Regions from separate parts of the Homo sapiens genome. Here region 2 is linked to region 1. The links come from fine-mapping of genetic effects on gene expression. Tissue or cell type: whole blood. Region 1 holds a variant in brackets; the other region holds the start of a gene. All regions are shown on one strand. Distances are from middle to middle.

Region 1 (10,856 bases):
CTGTCTCCAAATAAATAAGTAAATAAATAAATAAAATTTTAAAAAGAATGGCTTCCCAAGAGGGAACTTTTCAAGTTCAAGTTGAGAAATAGAATAACACTAGGCCAACCTTCTGGAAATTTTCCCCAAGTGGTTAACTCTGTTTCAGATATGTCTGAGCATTGGCCATTAAGAGCCTTGCTGCTTCAAAGTGTGGTTCGCAGACCAGCAGCATCAGCAGCCCCTGAGAGCTTGTTAGAAATGCAGAGCTCAATGCATTGGTTTTTTGCCTATTTTTAAAGAAAACAGCAAAAGAAATGCAGAGCTAAGGCCCCTCCTCAGACCTATTGAATCAGAATCTGCATTTCAACAAGATCTGTAGGCGATTCTTATGCACATTAAAGTTTGAGAAACACTGGTCCATGCCGTCTGTTTTTCCATATTCTCCCTATAGTACCAGCTGGAATATCCCGGATTAGCCAGCCAGGAGCCCAGGAACTTACACAGTACTGTCATCTCTGACTTCTCTGACCATCTTCAAAGATGGTCCTCTGTACCCTGTGTTGGAAATGCTGTGGGTGGGGAGAGAAAGCCTTACCCTGCCGCAGCTCAGTGTTGGATGTGAGTTTGGAAAGATGAGTCATCCAGCGGGATTTTCTCCAGGCCATGAGCCAAAGGTCCAGATTTTGTTGGTTTATGTTTGGATCACAGGATCTGAGTTTCTGAATGATCCTATTCCTATGTTTGTCTTGTAGTGCAAAGAAAGGAGGTACAGGCCCGAGCTGTGTTCTACCCCCTCTTAGGGTTGGGAGGAGCTGTGAACATGTGCTATCGAACCCTCTACATCGGGACAGGTGAGCCAGCCAGGAAGCTGGGAGAGACACTGAATCTGTTCAGCCCTAAAGACTGACACCCTTACCCACAGAAGTTAGAAAGGGGTGAGGGAAGCCCTTTCCAGAGTTGACTGCTTTAAATCAGTGGATAGCTAGACAAGAGAAACTAAGAATAGAGACAATCAGCCAGTCACGGTGGCTCACGCCTATAATCCCAACACTTTGGGAGGACAAGGCAGGAGGAACACTTGAGCCCAGGACTTCGAGACCAGCCTGGGCAACATGGTGAAACCCTATCTCTACCAAAAACAAATATAAAAAATTAGCTGGGCTAACATGCCTATAGTCCCAGCTACTTGGGAGGCTGAGGTGGGAAGATCACCTGAGGCTGGGAGGTCCAGGCAGTGATCCTTTTTGTGCCTCTGCACTCCAGCCCAGGCAACAGAGTGAGACCCTGTCTCAAAAATAAAAGAGACAATCAGTTCCTTGTCTTCCCTTGTTCAGGCCCTTTTGCTTTGTCTTTGCCCAGTGTTGCAACAGCAGAGATGAAAGTCAGCTCTGACTACTGCCCAGGGAGGCACTTTAAACACTGCAGGGAAGAACCTAAGGAGAAGGCAGATGCTTTGTCCCTGGTGGTCTTTGAAAGAGTGATAGACTCACACATACCCAATCTTCAGTTAGCCCTGTATCTGTTTTTTGTTTTGTTTTGTTTTCCCTAAAAGTCCTAGAGACCGATAGCTCTGTATCTGGTACAGAAGGACAGACAGATTAGCCCTTACCCTAGAAACTTCCCTTTCTTTAAGGTGATAAGATTTTCTAGGCTCTGCACCCCGATGTTGTATTTTCATAGAAATATCCCATCCTCTTCAGTAGCTCACTCTTCCCTTCTGGGTAGCAGCCACATGTTCTAAAGCAGATCAGCTGGCAGGGACAGCTGTTCTTTATCAGGAGCTTGGAAAAGACAACAGTTTTTGTTCAAAAATAAAAGGGGAGGGCCCTGAGCTACTCACCCTTGAAGTCTCTGCTAGTGCCAACCCAGAAGCTAACTCTCTCCCTGTCTTACCTCCCCGACACATGCACCTTACAATCTGTTCTCTGCCTTCCTTTTCCTCTACTCCTGCCACCTTGCAGGAGCTGACATGGATGTGTGCCTTACAAACTATGGTCACTGTAACTACGTGTCCGGGAAACATGCCTGCATATTCTACGATGAGGTGAGGGCCGGAGATGCGGTGGGAGGGAGCTTTCCCAACCTGAGGCCTCTCCCAGGCAGTAGGTTTTTGTTCAGTGCCCTGAGGGGAGGGAAGAGGGATTGGGGGTCCTCTCTTTTTCTTCCCTCCCTGTCATTCCTGGAGGAGGAGAGTCTTGATGTGAAATAGCATCCTACCTGGGAAGCTACCTGCTTCCCAGGAGCAGGGCTACCATTTTTCCTGAGGTTAGTCACAGGCACAACAGAGGGAGCCTACCCTAAAGCAAGGGAGGGGACCAGCATAGAAGGAAGCCAAGCCTTGTGGGTGTGTCCCTGTGAATTTCATTATCATCACGGGCCAGTGAGTATCATACCAAGAGGAGCGGTGCTGAGAGGGCAGAGTGAAGGAGTGGGAGAGTAGGGAGTGTGGGACACCAGAAGGAAAGCTTCCCTGAGGAGGTGTCTCCAGCCCCCTTCTGAAAGGACAGGGGCCATGACTGGGGAGGCAAGTAAGGACTCTCTAGGTAGAGTAGCACGGCCTTCTCCATATGTCCTCTCTCCCCTTAGCCCCAGGCCCCACACAGCAGACCACACATCTTATCTCCCCTCCTCCTCCTCAGAATACCAAACATTATGAGCTGTTAAACTACAGTGAGCATGGGACAACGGTGGACAATGTGCTGTATTCATGTGACTTCTCGGAGAAGACCCCGCCAACCCCCCCAAGCAGTATTGTTGCCAAAGTGCAGAGTGTCATCAGTAAGTTGGAGCAGAGATCTGTGGCCACAAAGCTGAGGCCCCAGTCAGGGTGGTTCTGACTTGCTGCCCATGGTCTGTCTCTTGCCTTCCCAGTCCTATTGGCCAAGCTCTACTTCCTCGTGGGCCCAGGGCAGGCCACAGAGAAGCAAGTGCTGAGTACCCCCATGTGTGTACACACCTGTGGGGACTTCAGACTCCACCAACCCTTTCTGAGCATCCTTCCTCCCTAGTCATGCAGCAGTTGGAATGGGGAGATGCAGGAGCCCAACCTTGGCAAACAGCCCACATGGGTTGGCTGCTCACTGTTCCTCTTCTGTGACCATCCCCCTTTTTCCCAGGGCGCCGCCGGCACCAGAAACAGGACGAAGAGCCAAGTGAGGAGGCAGCCATGATGAGTTCCCAGGCCCAGGGGCCGCAGCGGAGACCCTGCAATTGCAAAGCCAGCAGCTCGAGCTTGATTGGGGGCAGTGGGGCCGGCTGGGAGGGCACAGCCTTACTGCACCATGGCAGCTACATCAAGCTGGGCTGCCTGCAGTTTGTCTTCAGCATCACTGAGTTTGCGACCAAACAGCCCAAAGGCGATGCCAGCCTGCTGCAGGATGGGGTCTTGGCCGAGAAGCTCTCTCTCAAGCCCCACCAGGGCCCTGTGCTGCGCTCCAACTCTGTTCCTTAGGACTGGCGGCTACCCCGCCACTGGCCTGTACACCCACCCAAGACTCCTGCAATGCAAAAATGTACACAAACCAAGCCCGGGTGTTTTCTATACTCTACCAGAAACCCTTCAACTACAATCTTTGCATGAAATGAAGAAAACCTTTTGACTGTTTTTTAAAAATCCTTTTTCTTTTCTCAAGTTCTAGGGGGCATTTGCACATATATTTGTACTCAACATTTCATGGGAAAGCGGCAGACCTGAGCTGAGGAACAGCGTGGGCAGGGAGGGAAAGACCCAGGGTCTGGACACTTCCTCCAACACAAAACCCTTCCCCACCCACCTCCTGCTCCCTCCCCCTCGCCCACCATTGTAAAATAATCAGAAACTTGTTCTATTTTGTGGCAGTGACAATAGTTTTATATTAAAAGAAAAAATACAGTTTTCATACAGCAAAATCTATACAATATCATTGTTTTATTTAATATAAAGATCGCTACCCACCTTCCTTCCATGGTTCCCACCCTCCACGTTATTTTCCCTTTCTGCAGCGGTTGCACTACAGGTAGCTACTGTGTATTATGGACAAATGAGAAATGAATTCTTTTTCTGGCTGTCCATCTATTTTATTTCAAATAAGGAAAAGTGTATTTGGATTTTGTGTAAATACATCTAGTGATGACATTTTTTCAATGTTTTTAAAAACCGTGTACAGTACTACATGTGGTAGAGCGTTTTCTCAAATTGTCTATTGTAGCAAAAATGTTTTTGTCGTAAACCTGTTTTGTCTCCTTTTTTTGTTCTCTTGCCACTTCTCTCCTCTTCCTCCTGCCCCTGGTTCCCTCCTCTCCTCCCACCCCCACAACCAGTACCAATGTACATAGTAATTGTAATGTTTTAGACTTTACAGAAACTTTCCTGTATTCTGTATATAAAAAACAAAAATACTTCAAATTGTTTTCTGACTGTCTGTCCTACCTGTCATCACCCTTAGAGGAGACCCTCCCCTAGATCTGGGTCTAGCAGGTGGGGGGCCTTTTGAACAGGTCTCATTCCCATAGGGAAGTTTGGTAGGGGAGGTGTTGGAGAAAAGTGAGCCAGGGTGGGTGGATGACAATGGAATGACATGGGTGCGTCTGCTGGCCCGGGGGGAGCTGTTTCTCCAGAGAACCCTGACTGATAGTGGAATCTAGTCTTGACCTGTCACTTCTAGTCATGTGATCTGCAGTCACACTTCTCTACAACTGCTATTCCTCATCAAAAAACGAGTCTGCTGCATTACCTTAATTCTCAAGTCCCGGGGACCTTCATTAAACCAAATTCCATGCTTTCCTCCCAGATCTTAGTGAAAAACTCTCCAGGAAGTTTTCCTGAGGTCAGCCTCCTCAGATGGAGAGCACCTCTGTGTATATTCCAGCACTGTTTGTGTAGGTGCATCTGCTTGTGTGTCAGGATTTTGCCTTAGGGATAGAAAATGAATATTCTACCCCCAGCCTCATCCCACAGCATCTACAATGGAAACCCGAATCCGCAGTGCAGCTAAATAGGAAACTGGCCCTGGAATCTGAGGTCTGTCCCTGACTTTCATCTGCCCATGCAGGCGTCATCACTCTGCTCCCGGTGCCCTAATGGGCTTTTTGAACTCCCTAAGGACAGAAACTTGTATATCTTCCACTCGGAATTTCCAAGTCTAACTACACTGCTGGGCACACCATAAGTGCCAAATACCAGGTTCTAAATTGTACTGAATGTATCAGGCAACGGCCTTCTGCCCTGGAATGGTCTTACCCATTTGTTCCTAGCCAGCCCCACCCTTCCTGCCATCATGGTCACTTGTAATTGAGTGATGGAGCTTCTCTGCCTGTCTCTTATCACCTATGAGAACCATTCCAAAGGCAAATTTCCTCCTGAAAGGCAATAACAGATTTTACTCTCTATCTCTTCCTGCTTCCCTTCAGCCATGGAAGGCACTAGTGGGGTTGAGGTAGGGAGATACAGAGGGGGAATGAAGGAGTGAATTCTGACACCCCTTAACTGCCTGTGCCACCTTTAACAGTGTCCTCTCTAGCCTGTGTGGGGAGAACACGGAAGAATCCTAGAAGCTGGGGGCTGGATGTGAAGATAAGAAAACGAAGGATTTGGCCCAGTGCAGAGGCTCACACCTGTAATCCCAGCACTTTGAGAGGCTGAGGCAGGTGGGTCACTTAAGGTCAGAAGTTTGAGACCAACCTGGCCAACATAGTGAAAACCCTTCTCTACTAAAATACAAAAATTAGCCGGGTGTGGTGTCACACACCTGTGATCCCAGCTACTCTGGATTCTGAGGCAGGAGAATTGCTTGAACCCGGGAAGCGGAGGTTGCAGTGAGCCGGGATCACGCCACTGCACTCCAGCCTGGGCAACGAGAGTGAAACTCCGTCTCAAAAGAAAGAAAGAAAGGAAAGAAGGAAGGAAGGGAGGGAGGGAAGGAAGGAAGGAAGGAAGGGAGGAAGGAAGGAAGGGAAGGAAGGAAGGAAGGAAGGAAGGAAGGAAAGGAAAGGAAGGAAAGGAGAAGGATTTGTGCAGAAGGGAAGGAAGGAGAAGGATTTGTTCTTAGAGGGAAAAGCATCTAGGACTAGACTCAAAGACACACGTGTATTCATGTACACACCTAACTTCAGAAGGGAGGGACTGTGCTACAT[A/C]CACCTCGAGTAAACATATGGAGATATGCAAGCACATGCACTGGCAGAGACTACAGATGCAGGCACATACCTGGAGGGACTCTGCCAGAATGCACACAAACACCTACAAGGTGCTTACAGGAGCTCACACACAGGATCCAGAGGCACGCACACAACCCAAAGGGTGATCCTCAGGGACATGGGCACATACACACCTAGAGATCATTCACATACAAGCGTTGCAGATGCATGCACATACCTAGCGTGCACTCACAGGGTGTACGTGGACACACACACCCAGGAGTTCACACAGGCACACACCTAGGGGGCGCTCCCAGGGCCCAAGCGCACACACTCACCTCAAAGGTGTCCACAGAGGCACACGCCCCCAGGACGCCGACGCACGCCTAGGGGGCGCTCGCAGGGCCGGCGCGCACCCGCACGCGCACACGCCCCTGCCCAGCCTCCTGCCCGCCTCCGCCTTCGGAGGCTGACGCGCCCGGGCGCCGTTCCAGGCCTGTGCAGGGCGGATCGGCAGCCGCCTGGCGGCGATCCAGGGCGGTGCGGGGCCTGGGCGGGAGCCGGGAGGCGCGGCCGGCATGGAGGCGCTGCTGCTGGGCGCGGGGTTGCTGCTGGGCGCTTACGTGCTTGTCTACTACAACCTGGTGAAGGCCCCGCCGTGCGGCGGCATGGGCAACCTGCGGGGCCGCACGGCCGTGGTCACGGGTGAGTGCGGAGGCGGGTGAGTGCGAGCTGGCGGGGCGCGCGGAGAGGAGGCCGGGCCGGCGGTAGCAGCGGCCCGCCGGGCTCAGCTCAGCTCGGCTCCCGCCCGCGGTCCGCAGGCGCCAACAGCGGCATCGGAAAGATGACGGCGCTGGAGCTGGCGCGCCGGGGAGCGCGCGTGGTGCTGGCCTGCCGCAGCCAGGAGCGCGGGGAGGCGGCTGCCTTCGACCTCCGCCAGGTGAGAGGCAGCGGGGGCGCGTGGGACGGTGAGCCGAGAACCCGCCGGGACACAGAGAAGCCAGCAAAGGGGCTGCGGAGGATCCGGGTCCAGGGAGGAGAGCGCGGCGCGGGCGGCTGAGCGCGAAGAGGGAGTGCACGGAGCGCTGGGGTCACCCGAGGAAGGCGCACCAGAGCCGAGTGGGGGAGGGGCTTCCTGAAGGCCGTAATTGCAGTTCTGAGACGTTTAAGCATCAGTAGAAGTTGGGTTAATGATCAGTAGGAAAGGGAACAGCAGAGGGCACAGCATAAGCAAAGGCTCTGAGGCAAAGAGAGCTGGACTGATCTGAAAAACTGAGAAAAAGATTTAATGAGGCTGGAGCACAAAGTATGAGGAAGATGGGCAAATGAGGGGGCTGGAGAACATTCTAGAGCCTATTGAGAAGCTTGGATTTTATAGATTGGGCAGCAGAGACCAGTGGAGACCATGAACAGCCCTCAGTAGGCTCCGGACTGTCAGAATAGCCTTTGGAAGGAACTCCTTTGTGGCTGCGTGGTGCCTGGAGTGGGGGGGCAAGAGCGGGAGAGAGGAGACCAGTGAGAAGTTACAGATTTTAGGGTAAATGGTAATGGGGAAAGGAGGTGATAATAATAATAGCAAGTACCTACCCAGTGCTGCTAGAGTGTATTTTACACGTTAACTCCTTTCATCCTCACAAAAGCTCAGTGAGATTGGGACTGTTGTTATTATTATTCCCTTTACGCAGTGAGAGAACTGAGACCCAGAGAGATTAAGTATCTTGCCCAAGGTCACACTTTAGTAAAAGGCAAAGTCAGGATTTGAATCCACACACTTATCTAGTACACTCTAAGACACAGGGGCAGATTTTAGTAAACAGTAGGAGATGGACTCTCAGAATTTGGTGCCTGGGGAGAGGGAAGAGGAGAGAGATGCCTGGTGACAAGCCCAGCCCTTGCCTCTCCACAGGAGAGTGGGAACAATGAGGTCATCTTCATGGCCTTGGACTTGGCCAGTCTGGCCTCGGTGCGGGCCTTTGCCACTGCCTTTCTGAGCTCTGAGCCACGGTTGGACATCCTCATCCACAATGCCGGTGAGGGGCAGCAGGCCCTGCGTGGGGGTGGGGTGGCGGGTGGCCAGGGGCAACTGCCCCCTCCAGCGGGGGCCCTGCTGGGGCCAGTGGACACATGGGAAGGATGCCCCCTTCTCCCATCTCATAGATAGGGATGCCAAGGCTGCAGAGCTCCTTCTGGAGCAGCCGCTCACATTTAGCCTCTGCCCCAGGTATCAGTTCCTGTGGCCGGACCCGTGAGGCGTTTAACCTGCTGCTTCGGGTGAACCATATCGGTCCCTTTCTGCTGACACATCTGCTGCTGCCTTGCCTGAAGGCATGTGCCCCTAGCCGCGTGGTGGTGGTAGCCTCAGCTGCCCACTGTCGGGGACGTCTTGACTTCAAACGCCTGGACCGCCCAGTGGTGGGCTGGCGGCAGGAGCTGCGGGCATATGCTGACACTAAGCTGGCTAATGTACTGTTTGCCCGGGAGCTCGCCAACCAGCTTGAGGCCACTGGCGTCACCTGCTATGCAGCCCACCCAGGTGAGGTCTGGTTCTTTGGCTTCCGATTCCCCTCTCCTTTCCTTGCCCCATCCTGTGCCCCCCACACCACTACCGCCTCCCCACCCTCCATCCCTCATTGAGTCACAGAATCTCAGGGCAGCAAGGAAGCATAGTCCAAGGAGAGACCTGTTCCTTGCTGCTCTTGGAACCAGGTTCTCCTGGTTTAGGTTCTTCCTCTCACACCACAAGCCTGGGTCCTCAGCCCTGGGGGGTATATGGCCATGAATAAGACCTGGATTCCCACCCCCAGGAGCCATCTGCACTGACTGAACTGATAATGATGATGATGATAGCTAATAATTCATCCAAGAAGCATTTACCGAGTACCTACTCTGTATCAGGCATTACTTGCAGTGCTGGGGATATAGCAGTGAACAAAACAAAGACCCTGCCCTCATAGAGTTTGCATTCTAGTTTGGAGGAGAGGGAGACAGCCAATAAATATATACGATGAGGGGTGGTGATAGAGTGCTCTGAGGAAAAAGGAAACAGCAAGGGGCAAATGGAACGGGAATATGGTGTGGCAGTCAAGGAAGACATATCTATAAAGGTGACATTTGAACAGAGGTCTGAAAGATACATGGCTCACTGGGGAGATGCCCAGAAAAAGAGAGAACAGTGCAAATAATAAGTGCAGAGGGGCTGGAAGCGGTGGCTCATGCCTGTAATCCCAGCACTTTGGGAGGCCAAGGCTGGTAGATCACTTGAGGTCAGGAGTTCGAGACCAACCTGGGCAACATGGTGAAACCCCATCTCTAGGCTGGGCGTGGTGGCTCACACCTGTAATCCCAGCATTTTGGGAGGCCGAGGCGGGCAATCACAAGGTCAGGAGTTCGAGACCAGCCTGACCAACATGGTGAAACCCCATCTGTACTAAAAATACAAAAATTAGCCAGGTGTGGTGGCGCGCGCCTGTAATCCCAGCTACTCAGGAGGCTGAGGCAGGAGAATCGCTTTAATCCGGGAGGTGGAGGTTGCAGTGAGCCGTGATCACGCCACCGCACTCCAGCCTGGGGGACAGAGCAAGACTCCATCTCAAAAAAAAAGAAAAAAGAAAAAAAAAAGAAAACCTGTCTCTACTACAAATACAAAAATTAGCTAGGCATTGTGGCTATCACCTGTAGTCCCAGCTATTCAGGAGGCTGAGGCAGGAGAATCGCCTGAACCTAGAGGTGGACGTTGCCAGTAAGCTGAGATCTCGCCACTGTACTCCAGCCTGGGTGACAGAGCGAGACTCTGTCTCCAAAACAGAAAAAAGTAAGTGCAGAGGCCCTAAGGCAGAAGTTCCTGGTGTGCTTGAGAAAGGCTAATGTGGCTGGAACAGAGTGAGGGGGGAGAGTGGCAAGAGGTGAGGTCATAGAGAGGCACTGTGTCCTGTAGGGTTTGGAGGGAGGTTCACTATAGGCATTCTGGCTTTTACTCTGAGTGAGATAATTGGGGATCCAGAGCAACACTTTGTCTTATGGAAGAGGTTATACCAGGATAACAAGATCTGTCATATTCATATTACCATACTGCATTTTAGATAGTCACTGCCTAAGGCTCATTAGTAATTATAATAGCGATGATCACAATTAGCCTTTATTAAGTCTTTATTACACTCCATATCACTAATGTCCAAAATAGTGGCTGGTATACTGCAAGTACTTAATAAATGCTGGTTAAACAAGGAACAGGACTTGAGCTAGAAGAAAAGATGGAGAGAGACTGAGAATTGTTTCAGACATGGGACACAGCATGAACAAAATCTGGGATGTGGGGTGAACAAGCAGTCTGGATGGAAGCGAAGAGGCTTCATGCAGGAAATGAGTGAAGTCACCTCGCAGAAGCCCCGAATGCCTGGTAAATACTATCCTGGTTCCCTTGAAACCAGATTCTGTCCCTGTTCTTCTAGCTCTGTTCTATTTTTTTTGTTGTTGTTTTTTTTTTTAAAGAGACAGAGCTTGACTATGTTGCCCAGTCTGGTCTCAAACTCCTGGGCTCAAGTGATCCTCCTGCTCCGCCTCCCGAGTAGCTGTGACTGTAAATACACACCACTGTGCCTAGCCCGACTCCTTTCTTTCTTCCTGCCTACAGGGCCTGTGAACTCGGAGCTGTTCCTGCGCCATGTTCCTGGATGGCTGCGCCCACTTTTGCGCCCATTGGCTTGGCTGGTGCTCCGGGCACCAAGAGGGGGTGCCCAGACACCCCTGTATTGTGCTCTACAAGA
Region 2 (10,856 bases), 240 kb after region 1:
CACACATTGAGGAGCGCATAGTTCCTGCTCTAGCACAGGGGTTGGCAAACCTTTCCTTTTCTCTATAGGGCCAAATCTGCCACTGTAGCACAGCATACATAACATGTAAATGAATGGGGGTGACCTTATTTGGCTCACAGGCCTTAGTTTGTGACCCCTGATTTAGAGAATTGATGATAAGAATAGCATGGGATCCTGTAATAAGACAACCTAACCTGGTTTTGAGGAAGTGACTTTAAACAAAGACCTTAAGAGTAAGGAGGAATTAGTTCAGCAGAGGAGCTGGCTTCTTTGGAGATGGTTTGGGGAGTGATGTCAGAGACGTGTGCTTCTAGCACAACACGTGTACTGTGGCAGGTACAGAGAAGGCCCAGGAGAGGAAGAATGGTTCATAAGGGTTGGAGAAGTCATAAGGATCTAGGCACTGGGAAGCCATTGCAGGGTTTTAAATGTAGAACTGAACTTAATCTACTTGCTAATCCAACAAAAACTTATTATTTTCTGAGATGGGGTCCTGCTCTGTCACCCAGACTGGAGTGCAGTGGTGTGATTACATCTCACTGCAGCCTCCACCTCCTGGGCTCAAGCCATAATCTCACCTCAGCCTCCCAGGTAGCTAGGACAAATACATATACATATACATATACGTTTTTTTGAGACAGAGTCTCGCTCCATTGCCCAGGCTTGGAGTGTAGTGGCACGATCTCAGCTCACTGCAACCTCCGCCTCCCAGGTTCAAGCAATTCTCCTGCCTCAGCCTCCCAAGTAGCTGGGATTACAGGCACCCACCACCACGTCCAGCTAATTTTTTCTTTGTATCTTTAACAGAGACGGGGTTTCACCATGTTGGCCAGCCTGGGCTCGAGCTCCTGACCTCAGGTGATCCGCCTGCCTCAGCCTCCCAAAGTGTTGGGATTATAGGCGTGAACCACCATGCCTGGCATAAATATGTATTTAATGAGTGCCTACCACATGCCAGGCACGTACAAGACTAGGTCCATGCCCCTAGGATGCCCGTATTCTGGTGCAGGAGACATATTGGCAACAAATAAAATAAACCTTGCTCTAAAAGCGAAGAAGGAAATGCATATTCTCATCTCATCTAAAGTGAGTTTACTTAGGCTGAGATGTCAATAGGTAGGATATGACCTGTAGAAGTAGGAGGAGAGGTTCCAGTAGAGAAAGTGGGCAAGAACATGGTATATAATAGGTGATGTCCTGAGGCTGATGGCACTAGAGCATGGTGAAGGCAGCAGCCTATGAGGGAGAGGTATGCTCAAGCAGGGCGTAAAGGCCATGGAAAGTCACTGGAGAGTTTTAAGTAGGGAAATGACATGATCTGCCCTGATCCAATTCTGTTACATGGAAAATGAACTGGAGGAAGATCTGAGTGGAAACCAGGGAAAACTGAAGATACTGTTGTGGTAGCCCAGGCAAAAGATGGTGGTGGCTTGGAATAAGGTGGTAAAAGTGAAGATGGAGAATAGAAGACAGATTACAAAAACATTCTGCAAGTGGAAGTGACAAGACTTACTGAAAGACTGGGGAAGAGGAGTAGTAAAGGAGAAGAACAAAGATGATTCTCAGAGGTCTATCTTTGGTAACCCTGCGGATAGGAGCACCACTCAGTGAAACGGGAGGATAAGGTTTGCAATGATGAGAAAACCAAAACTTTCTTTTGGTTATGTTAGCTTTGGGTGCCTAAGAAATATCCAAATGGAGATAATTAAACAGGCATTTTTGACGCGTGATTCTGCAACATAGAGGAGAGGGCTGGACTAGAGATTTAAACTTTGGAGTTGCCAACTTTCAGGTGGTAATTAAAGCCATGGGGCTGGGTTACCTAAAGGGAAGCATGTAGAAGGCTCGGGATTCCTGTGAGAATTCCAACATATGTAGATATACATATATTTTGAGACGGAGTTTTGTTCTGTTGCCCATGCTGGAGTGCAGTGGCATGATCTCTGCTCACTGCACCTCTGCCTCCCTGGTTCAAGTGATTCTCCTGCCTCAGCCTCCCAAGTAGCTGGGATTACAGGCGTGTCGCCACGCCCGGCTAGTTTTTGTATTTTTAGTAGAGATGGGGTTTCACCATGCTGGCCAGGCTGGTTGTGAACTCCTGACCTCAAGTGATCTGCCCACCTCGACCTCCCAAAGTGCTGGGATTATAGGCATGAGCCACTGCGACCAGCCCCAGCATTTAGACATTAGATAGAGAGCAAAAGTTGCTAGCAAATGAGACTCAGAAGGAACAGCCGGAGAAATGGAGAAAATCCAAGAGTGAAATGTCAATAAAGCCAAGATGAAAGTTTGGAGGCAGGAGTAACTATGTTGAATATTGCAGAGACAGAGGAATATGAGAACAAAGTATCCATTGGATTTGGCAACATAGAAGTCACTGGTGACCTTGATAAGAGCAACTTCAATGGAGTGGGCAAAGTAGATGTGGTGGCACTTGATTACTAGAAGCTGCCTCAGGAGGACTGCTTGAGCTCAGGAGTTCCAGGTGGCAGTGAGCTATGATGGGGCCACTGCACTCCAACCTGGGCAACAGAGCAAGACCCTGTCTCCACAAAAAAAAAAAAAAAAATGGAGTGGGCAGAAGAGAAGCCAGATTGGTATAAAATGAAGAGTGAATGAAAGTTGAGAAAGCTGAGTTGGTACAGGTAGAAATCTATGAATGGAAATTTAAAAAATTGGCATGGTAATTGGAGAGGGATGTGAAGGATACCAGAACATAATTTGTATGCTGATGGGAACAGTTTCAGGGAGAGACAGGATTTGGTGACTGATTTTATTGGGAAATAGTGGACAGGAAGGAAGACAAGGATTACAGGCAGGACTGATGGTAGTGCCATTTATTAAGGTCAAGAATATAGAATCAGGGCAAACGTATTTGCCTACAAAGATCATGTTTCCACCACACTAGGTAGGCTTTCAGAGGAAGAACTGTAAAATTTGACTAAGCCTCTCCAGACGGTACCACTTTCTGATGTAATTAATCTCCTGATGAAGTTAAAACCTCCTAGAGTTGCAAGGCTATGCTAATCCAATCTAGCAGCCACACAAGCCAAGTGAATAAAAATGTACTTGTACTGGTGAAAGGGACATTACTCGTAAAAAAGGGCTCTAAATTCACAGCTGATGGAAGAGCAGTTATGTTTCTGTAATCAAAACACTGAAGACTTACAAACTGGTAACTTCCAGATAAACAGTGGAACCAGACATTTTTCCGAAGAAATTAATCAAATTCAATATTGTTTACACTCCCTAATGCTCATTAATGATGTAGCTTCATACACCCTTGTTACTTTTGATATTACAGTGAATTTCCACGGAAGTATTTTCAGAGATCTTAGCCCTCTGAAATAAGTATCAGTTCTTGCAACAACCCAGGAAAATTAACTTCTCCAGCTGGTTCAAAGGAGTGCCTGAGGAGAAAGGTAGAAACTAGAAGATGGAGTTTTGACTTAATAACTAATTTTGATGTTCATGATAGGCCTCTGGCAAACGTTTGAGGAAATGAATCTATAGAGAATGGACGGGCTTTAGGACTTCTACAAGACCTTCGATCTTTAGAAAGGGATGAAGGATGCAACCATCTACAAAAAGTTCTATTTGTATTATTCAGCAATATGTAAAGAGCTGGAATTTGGCATCGCCCTCTAGCCTGATGGCCGAGCTGCTGAAAGCTCCACAGGATTCATATCCCCAGAACAAACAACTCGATCACCTGATCCTGGCTCAGAAGCCCCAGGTCCCTTCCATCCCCAATCCTTTTGCGTGGCCCAGTTTTAAAAACCTGCGGAGAGAAGGACGGGATGCCAGGAAGCCTGTTGATTCAACGTGCCACCCGATTCACGGGTTCCGGGTGTCACTGGGCTGGGAAAAGCTTTCGGACTCTGAGCAACTACAGCGCTTTCCTCCCCCTTCCCCCCATAGAGCAGGGAAGGCCAGGCTCCCCCTTCTTCCCGCATACGGCTCCCCACTGCCTCTTCCCTTACGTGACCAGGCCCTAGGAGCCCGGTTCCCCACCTGACTCCTGCGAGAAACACGCTCTCCAGTCGGAACTTTACCTGTCTGAAGCCCGCCGCTCCTCCAGTGCGCTAAGCCCCCACCGAGGAAAATGGAGTCGTCGAACCGAGACTGGGAAAAGATAGTACGGACCCACCGCACGGCCCCTCCGCCGCCACCGCCGCCGCTGCTGCGTCAACGTGCTACGTCATTTCCGGCTCCCTGTCACCGGGAGTGGGCGGGCCATTTCTTGTTCTCTCTCCCGCTCTCGGAAGCTTTCGTCTCGTGGGTGCGAAAGGTAACCGAAGCGGCTCAGGAAGGCAGCTGTCACTGAGCCCCTGGAACAGAGCGAGAGTATCGTAAGTAACCAGGCTCAGCCGGTTTCTCAGGCCGCTCTAGTCAAATAAACCATAAAGATCAGACTCGGGCTTCTTCACTTCCTTCTCTCCGTGGTTTCGCCATTAGCTTCCGGTTCCGGGGAGGGGCCGAGTTTTCTTCGAAGATTTGGGGCTCCGCGATACAGTTAGGATGGCTGTAGTACCTCTGCTGTTGTTGGGGGGTTTGTGGAGCGCTGTGGGAGCGTCCAGCCTGGGTGTCGTTACTTGCGGCTCCGTGGTGAAGCTACTCAATACGCGCCACAACGTCCGACTGCACTCACACGACGTGCGCTATGGGTCAGGTAATGCTGGGGACCGGGCTCGGGTGGGCTAGGGAGGACTCGGAGGCTCTGGAGGGGCGGGGCCTATAGAATATCTGACAGTGTGGTCTGGGAAAGTTAGGGGTTCCCTGGGAAGGTTCCTCAGGTCTAGAGAGTCGGAGAACTGAATTGTTCTAAGGCATCTTAATCGCAACACCACCTAATATTTGGTGAGCTACAGGCCAGGCACGTTACCTATGTCCTTTTTCCGATTATTAACATTGTTGTAAGGTGGACAGTATTGTTATCCTCATTTCACAGATGAGGAAACAGACGCAGAGAAATTAAATCGTTTATTCAAAGCCTTGCAGTTAGCAAATGACAAAGTCGGGGTTCTATCCAAATCTATCCAGGTTCAAAGCCTGCTTTAGAGACAAGAAAATTACAGTAAGTGCTGTGTCTGAAATTTTAAAGTTACAGTAAGTACTGTCTGTGAAACTTTAAACTCCAAGAGCTCACTCGTTGACTACAACCCTTTGTCTTCCAGCTCTTCTGCATCTTACACTTGCTCCTCAGTTTCCATCTTTGGCCCCCTTCTACCCAAACCTTAACCTCCTTCTTGTAAGAAACTTGGAGCAGTGACAGGAATTGCAGAGAAAACTGCTTTTTTTTTTTTTTTTTTTTAGCGTTTGAAATTAAAATGTTTAGTAATAAATTATTTGTGGATTCATTCAGCATAGGTCTTAATGAGTTCCTACTACATGGCTAGAATTGTACTACATACAGGAGATTCGGTGGTGATAATCAGTCAAGAAAATTACAATATAATAAAAACAGACTAAAAAAAGAAAGTCTTATCTGCCTGAAAAAAAAAGATAAAGTTAAAAAAAAAGAATGAAGGTCAGCTAGTGAGATGTGAGAGGCATCTAAGATAGCTGGTAGATTTTTGTCTTGAATGACTGATGATGCTGTTTGCTGAGGGAGGAAAGAGTTCTGTCAGGTGGGCTAGTCTGGTTCATGATTCCCAAAACCCATCTGATCAGTCAGACTAGGCAAGGACATGAGTTATCATCACTGCGATGTCTTAATAATTCTAGCACCCATTCAGTGAACACCTACCATGTTGTCAGGCTTATTTTTTACTTTGTTTTGGTTTCCTACTTTGGATCTACTGAATTAGAGTGGAGGTGGACAGAGGCTTGGCAGTAGCAATCTGTAGGTTTAAAAAGCTCTTCAGGTGGTTCTGATGGACAGCCAGATTTGGGAACCAGGTTCAGTCCGGAGCTCAGAAAAGGGATCTGTGCTGAGCCTGAGATACAACATTAAATATAACATCTTGTACAGACTGTGGTTGAAGATGTCAGGGTTGTAGATGAAATTGCCCAGAATGAACTGTGATTCTCTATCTGGGATTAATTTGAATAACTGGAGAAACTTGTTAAAAATACAAATGCTTTTGTCCTGACCCTCAACAATTGTTTAAGAACTACAGGTAGCCCTCTCCGTCTCCCTCTCTTGTCTCTTCTCTCTTTCCACGGTCTCCCTCTGTTGCCGAGGCTGGACTGTACTGCCGTGATCTCGGCTCGCTGCAACCTCCCTGCCTGGGGCTCCCGTGATTCTCCTGCCACGGCCTGCCGAGTGCCTGGGATTGCAGGCACACGCCGCCATGCCTGACTGGTTTTCGTATTTTTGGTGGAGACGGGGTTTCGCCGTGTTGGCTGGGCTGGTCTCCAGCTCCTGACCTCGAGTGATCTGCCTGCCTCAGCCTCCCGAGGTGCTGGGATTGCAGATGGAGTCTTGCTCACTCAGTGCTCAGTGTTGCCCAGGCTGGAGTGCAGTGGTGTGATCTTGGCTCACTACAACTTCCACCTCCCAGCCGCCTGCCTTGGCCTCCCAAAGTGCTAAGAGTACAGCCTCTGCCCGGCCGCCACCCCGTCTAGGAAGTGAGGAGCGTCTCTGCCTGGCCGCCCATCGTCTGGGATGTGAGGAGCGCCTCTGCCTGGCCGCCCCGTCTGGGATATGAGGAGGGCCTCTGCCCGGCCGCCACCCCGTCTGGGAAGTGAGGAGCACCTCTGCCCGGCCATCACCCTGTCTGGGATGTGAGGAGCGTCTCTGCCTGGCCGCCCTGTCTAGGAAGTGAGGAGCGCCTCTGCCTGGCCGCCCCGTCTGGGAAGTGAGGAGCGCCTCTGCCCGGCCGCGCCATCTGGGATGTGAGGAGTGCCTTTGCCCGGCTGCCACCCCATCTGGGAAGTGGGCTGCCCATTATCTGGGAGGTGAGGAGCACCTCTGCCCGGCCACCCCATCTGGGAAGTGGGGAGCACCTGGCCGCCCTGTCTGGGATGTGAGGAGCGCCTCTGCCCGGCCGCCACCCCATCTGGGAAGTGGGGAGCGCCTCTGCCCGGCTGCCCCGTCTGGGAAGTGGGGAGCGCCTCTGCCCGGCCGCCCTGTCTGGGAAGTGGGGAGCGCCTCTGCCCGGCTGCCCCGTCTGGGAAGTGGGGAGCGCCTCTGCCCAGCCGCCCCGTCTGGGAAGTGGGGAGCGCCTCTGCCTGGCCGCCACCCCGTCTGGGATGTGAGGAGCGCCTCTGCCCGGCCGCCACCCTGTCTGGGAAGTGAGGAGCGCCTCTGCCCGGCCGCCCATTGTCTGGGATGTGAGGAGCGCCTCTGCCCGGCCGCCCTTCGTCTGGGAGTTGAGGAGCACCTCTGCCTGGCTGTCCCATCTAGGAAGTGAGGAGCGCCTCTGCACGGCCGCCCCGTCTGGGAGGGGAGGAGCGCCTCTGTCCGGCCTCCCATCGTCTGGGATGTGAGGAGCGCCTCTGCCCGGCCACCCAGTCTGTTAAGTGAGGAGCTCCTCTGCCCGGCCACCCTGTCTGGGAAGTGAGGAGTGCCTCTGCCCGGCCGCCCCGTCTGGGAAGTGAGGAGCGCCTCTGCCTGGCCGCTGTGCAGTCTTCCAAGTGTGAAGTGACAGCCTTTCTGCAGGTGTACCCAACAGCACCGAAGAGACAGCGACCATCGAGAATGGGCCATGATGACGATGGCGGTTTTGTCGAAAAGAAAAGGGGGAAATGTGGGGAAAAGAAAGAGAGATCAGATTGTTACTGTGTCTGTGTAGAAAGAAGTAGACATAGGAGACTCCATTTTGTTCTGTACTAAGAAAAATTCTTCAGCTTTGGGATGCTGTTAATCTATAACCTTACCCCCAACCCCGTGCTCTCTGAAACGTGTGCTGTGTCAACTCAGGGTTAAATGGATTAAGGGTGGTGCAAGATGTGCTTTGTTAAACAGATACTTGAAGGCAGCATGCTCGTTAAGAGTCATCACCACTCCCTAATCTCAAGTACCCAGGGACACAAACACTGCGGAAGGCCGCAGGGACCTCTGCCTAGGAAAACCAGAGACCTTTGTTCACATGTTTATCTGCTGACCTTCTCTCCACTATTATCCTGTGACCCTGCCACATCCCCCTCTCCGAGAAACACCCAAGAATGAACAATAAATACTAAAAAAAAAAAAAAAAACTACAGGTAGAAACAGATGAAGGCCAGGCATAGAACTTTGGATAATCCCAAGGTATAAGGATTTGGAGGAAGAAGTGAACGGTTGAATAGAAAGCAGAAAATGTAGGAGACAAAATGTAGACCATGGTTTAGTGAAGCGTGGCTGTGAGGACCCAGAGAGCTGTAAGGCAGTAACCAGAAGTAGGAAGGGAGACTTGGTTTGCCTTTTCTGAAAAAAGATATAATAAAGTCATGAAAGGAGCTGATAGTTGGCTACATTTACCCGTGTAACTGGCAGTGACACAATTACGACTCATTGCAGCCTTGACCTCCTGGGCTCAAGCAATCCTCACATCTCAGCGTCCTGAGTAGCTGGGACTACAAGTGCACCCCACCACACCTGATTAATTTTTTGCATCTTTTGTAGAGATGGAGTTTTGTCAGTTGCTTAGGCTTGGTCTTGAATTCCTGGGCTCAAGCGATCTGCCCACCTTGACCTCCCAAAGTGCTGGGATTGACGGTGAGCCACTGTGCCCAGCTTCTTTTTTTTCTTTTAAATATAAAAATTTTTTTTTAGGCTGGGTGTGGTGGCTCACATCTGTAATCCTAGCACTTTGGGAGGCTGAGGCAGTTGGATTGCTTGAGCCCAGGAATTCGAGAGTAGCCTGGGCAACATGGCAAAAACCCATCTCTACAAAAAATAGAAAAATTAGCCAGGTGTGGTGGCAGGCGCCTGAAATCCCAGCTACTTGGGAGGCTGAGGTAGGAGGATCACCCGAGCCTGGGAGGTCAAGGCTGTGGCGAGCTGTGATCGTGCCACTGCACTCCAGCCTGAGTGACAAGAGGGATCCTGTATCAAAAAAAAAAAATACATATATATATATGTACGTTTAGAGACTGCATTTTGCTATGTTGCTGAGGCTAGTCTCGAACTCCTGGACTCAAGGGATCCTCCCCTCACCTTCCCAAAGCGCTTGGATTACAGGCATGAGCCACTGTGCCAGACCTCCAAGGATACATTTTTTGTTTTGTTTTTGTTTTTGTTTTGAGACAGAGTCTTGCCCTGCCACCTAGGCTGGAGTGCGGTGGTGTGATCTCGGCTCACTGCAACCTCCGCCTCCCGGATGCAAGCAATTCTTCTGCCTCAGCCTCCCAAGTAGCTGGGATTACAGGCACATGCGACCACGCCCAGCTAATTTTTATATTTTTAGTAGAGACGGGGTTTCACCATATTGGCCAGGCTGGTCTCGAACTCATGACTTTGTGTTCTGCCTGCCTCAGCCTCCCAAAGTGCTGGGATTACAGGCGTGAGCCACCGTGCCTTGCTTAAATAATACGTTTATAATAATTGACCACTTATGGGAGTTGGGAGCTGTAATGGCTGCTTAAAGTTGGCAACATAGTCTCATTTTAATTGTGAAATACAAAAATTTTTATCATAATAGTTAATGAACATGAATAATATTACAAACATGTTAAAATTATGTGATTAGACACATTAGGGGCTATCCAGGCTAGTGTGTATAGGTTACCACTGCCTGTGCCTCAAAAAACTCACATAGATTTGTGCCTTGGATATCCTTTGATGCAAATTCTTAGAATTTTCTGATATGACATACCCTTAAGTATACTTTATCATATAGTAACTAGTATTACGTGGACACAGTTTATTTATTTATTTTTTTTGAGACGGAGTCTGGCTCTGTCATCCAGGCTGGAGGGCAGTGGCGCGATCTTGGCTCATTGCAACCTCCACCTCCCGGGTTCAAGCGATTCTCCCACCTCAGCCTCCCAGATAGCTGGGATTACAGGCTGCCACCACCACACCCAGCTAATTTTTGTATTTTTAGTAAAGATGGGTTTTTGCCATGTTGCCCAGGCTGGTCTTGAATTCCTGGGCTCAAGCAATCCAACTGCCTCAGCCTCCCAAAAAGTGCTAGGATTACAGGTGTGAGCCACCACACCCAGCCTAAAAAATTTTTTTTTTATTTAAAAGAAGAAAAAGGCTGGGCACAGTGGCTCACCATCAATCCCAGCACTTTGGGAGGTCAAGTTTCACTCCCAGAGTGCTGGGATTACAAGCGTGAGCCACCACGCCCAGTATGATTTGTATTTTTTATAAATATTTTAATGTTGTAGAAGAAAAAATATTGCCAAGCATAGCATTTTTCTCCCCACCCCTTCTTACCTGTTTAATGACACGGCACAATATTGGCCATAGGCAAGAAGGGTGAGGCTGAGCTCACTTGCTGTTTTTTTTTTTGAGGAATGGGTACCAAATTTATTTGTTAATTTCTTGCATTTGAAGTACACAGTCACATCCTTGGCCTGAAATTCTTTGCTGTAGCCCTTCACTGTGACACAACTGCAACCAACCACTTTACAAAGTTTTCCTTGTCTATCAGTTTTACAAAGGCTTAGCCATGTCTCTGGTTTCTTAAGGTCATCAACCTTAATTGGGTTGATTTGGTGTTCGGCACAAAGGGCCACCCCTAGCTTGACATACATAGGCTCTTCACATTTGGATGCAAGCACGCAAAGATGGGCTTGGCCCTTGTCTAAGGCTTTGGCAGCTTTGCAGGTTCCACCTGCTAGGCCATCATGGCTGAGGGCGGTCTTCAGTCTCTTGTAGAGCAGTATTAATATCCATTACACCTCCAGCAGCGTGTCTTCCTTGGTCATGGTGGTGGGTTACAGGTGAAGGTGAATCT

What was found. PIP is the estimated chance that this variant, and not a neighbour inherited with it, causes the effect.
Region 2: SUPT6H starts here. The variant in region 1 is fine-mapped to the expression of SUPT6H in whole blood (TOPMed, PIP above 0.99).

What each region holds. Positions count from the first base shown.
Region 1 is chr17:28,898,760-28,909,615 of GRCh38, reverse strand. DHRS13 (dehydrogenase/reductase 13) reads left to right here and starts at 6,537. Exons shown (of 5, transcript NM_144683.4): 1 at 6,537-6,798; 2 at 6,915-7,033; 3 at 8,000-8,123; 4 at 8,315-8,626; 5 at 10,724-10,856. The coding sequence starts at 6,672. It overlaps PHF12 (PHD finger protein 12), which reads left to right. Exons shown (of 15, transcript NM_001033561.2): 12 at 735-833; 13 at 1,944-2,026; 14 at 2,622-2,760; 15 at 3,099-4,366. The coding sequence ends at 3,433. RefSeq lists silencers at 591-885, 6,315-6,944, 7,446-7,638 and an enhancer at 3,270-3,770. The variant A/C (reference allele first, on the strand shown) is at 6,094.
Region 2 is chr17:28,655,563-28,666,418 of GRCh38, reverse strand. SUPT6H (SPT6 homolog, histone chaperone and transcription elongation factor) reads right to left here and starts at 4,214. Exons shown (of 37, transcript NM_003170.5): 1 at 4,077-4,214. It overlaps SDF2 (stromal cell derived factor 2), which reads left to right and starts at 4,513. Exons shown (of 3, transcript NM_006923.4): 1 at 4,513-4,693. The coding sequence starts at 4,543. It also overlaps the pseudogene RPS12P28. RefSeq lists enhancers at 3,424-4,098, 4,196-4,265, 3,627-4,826.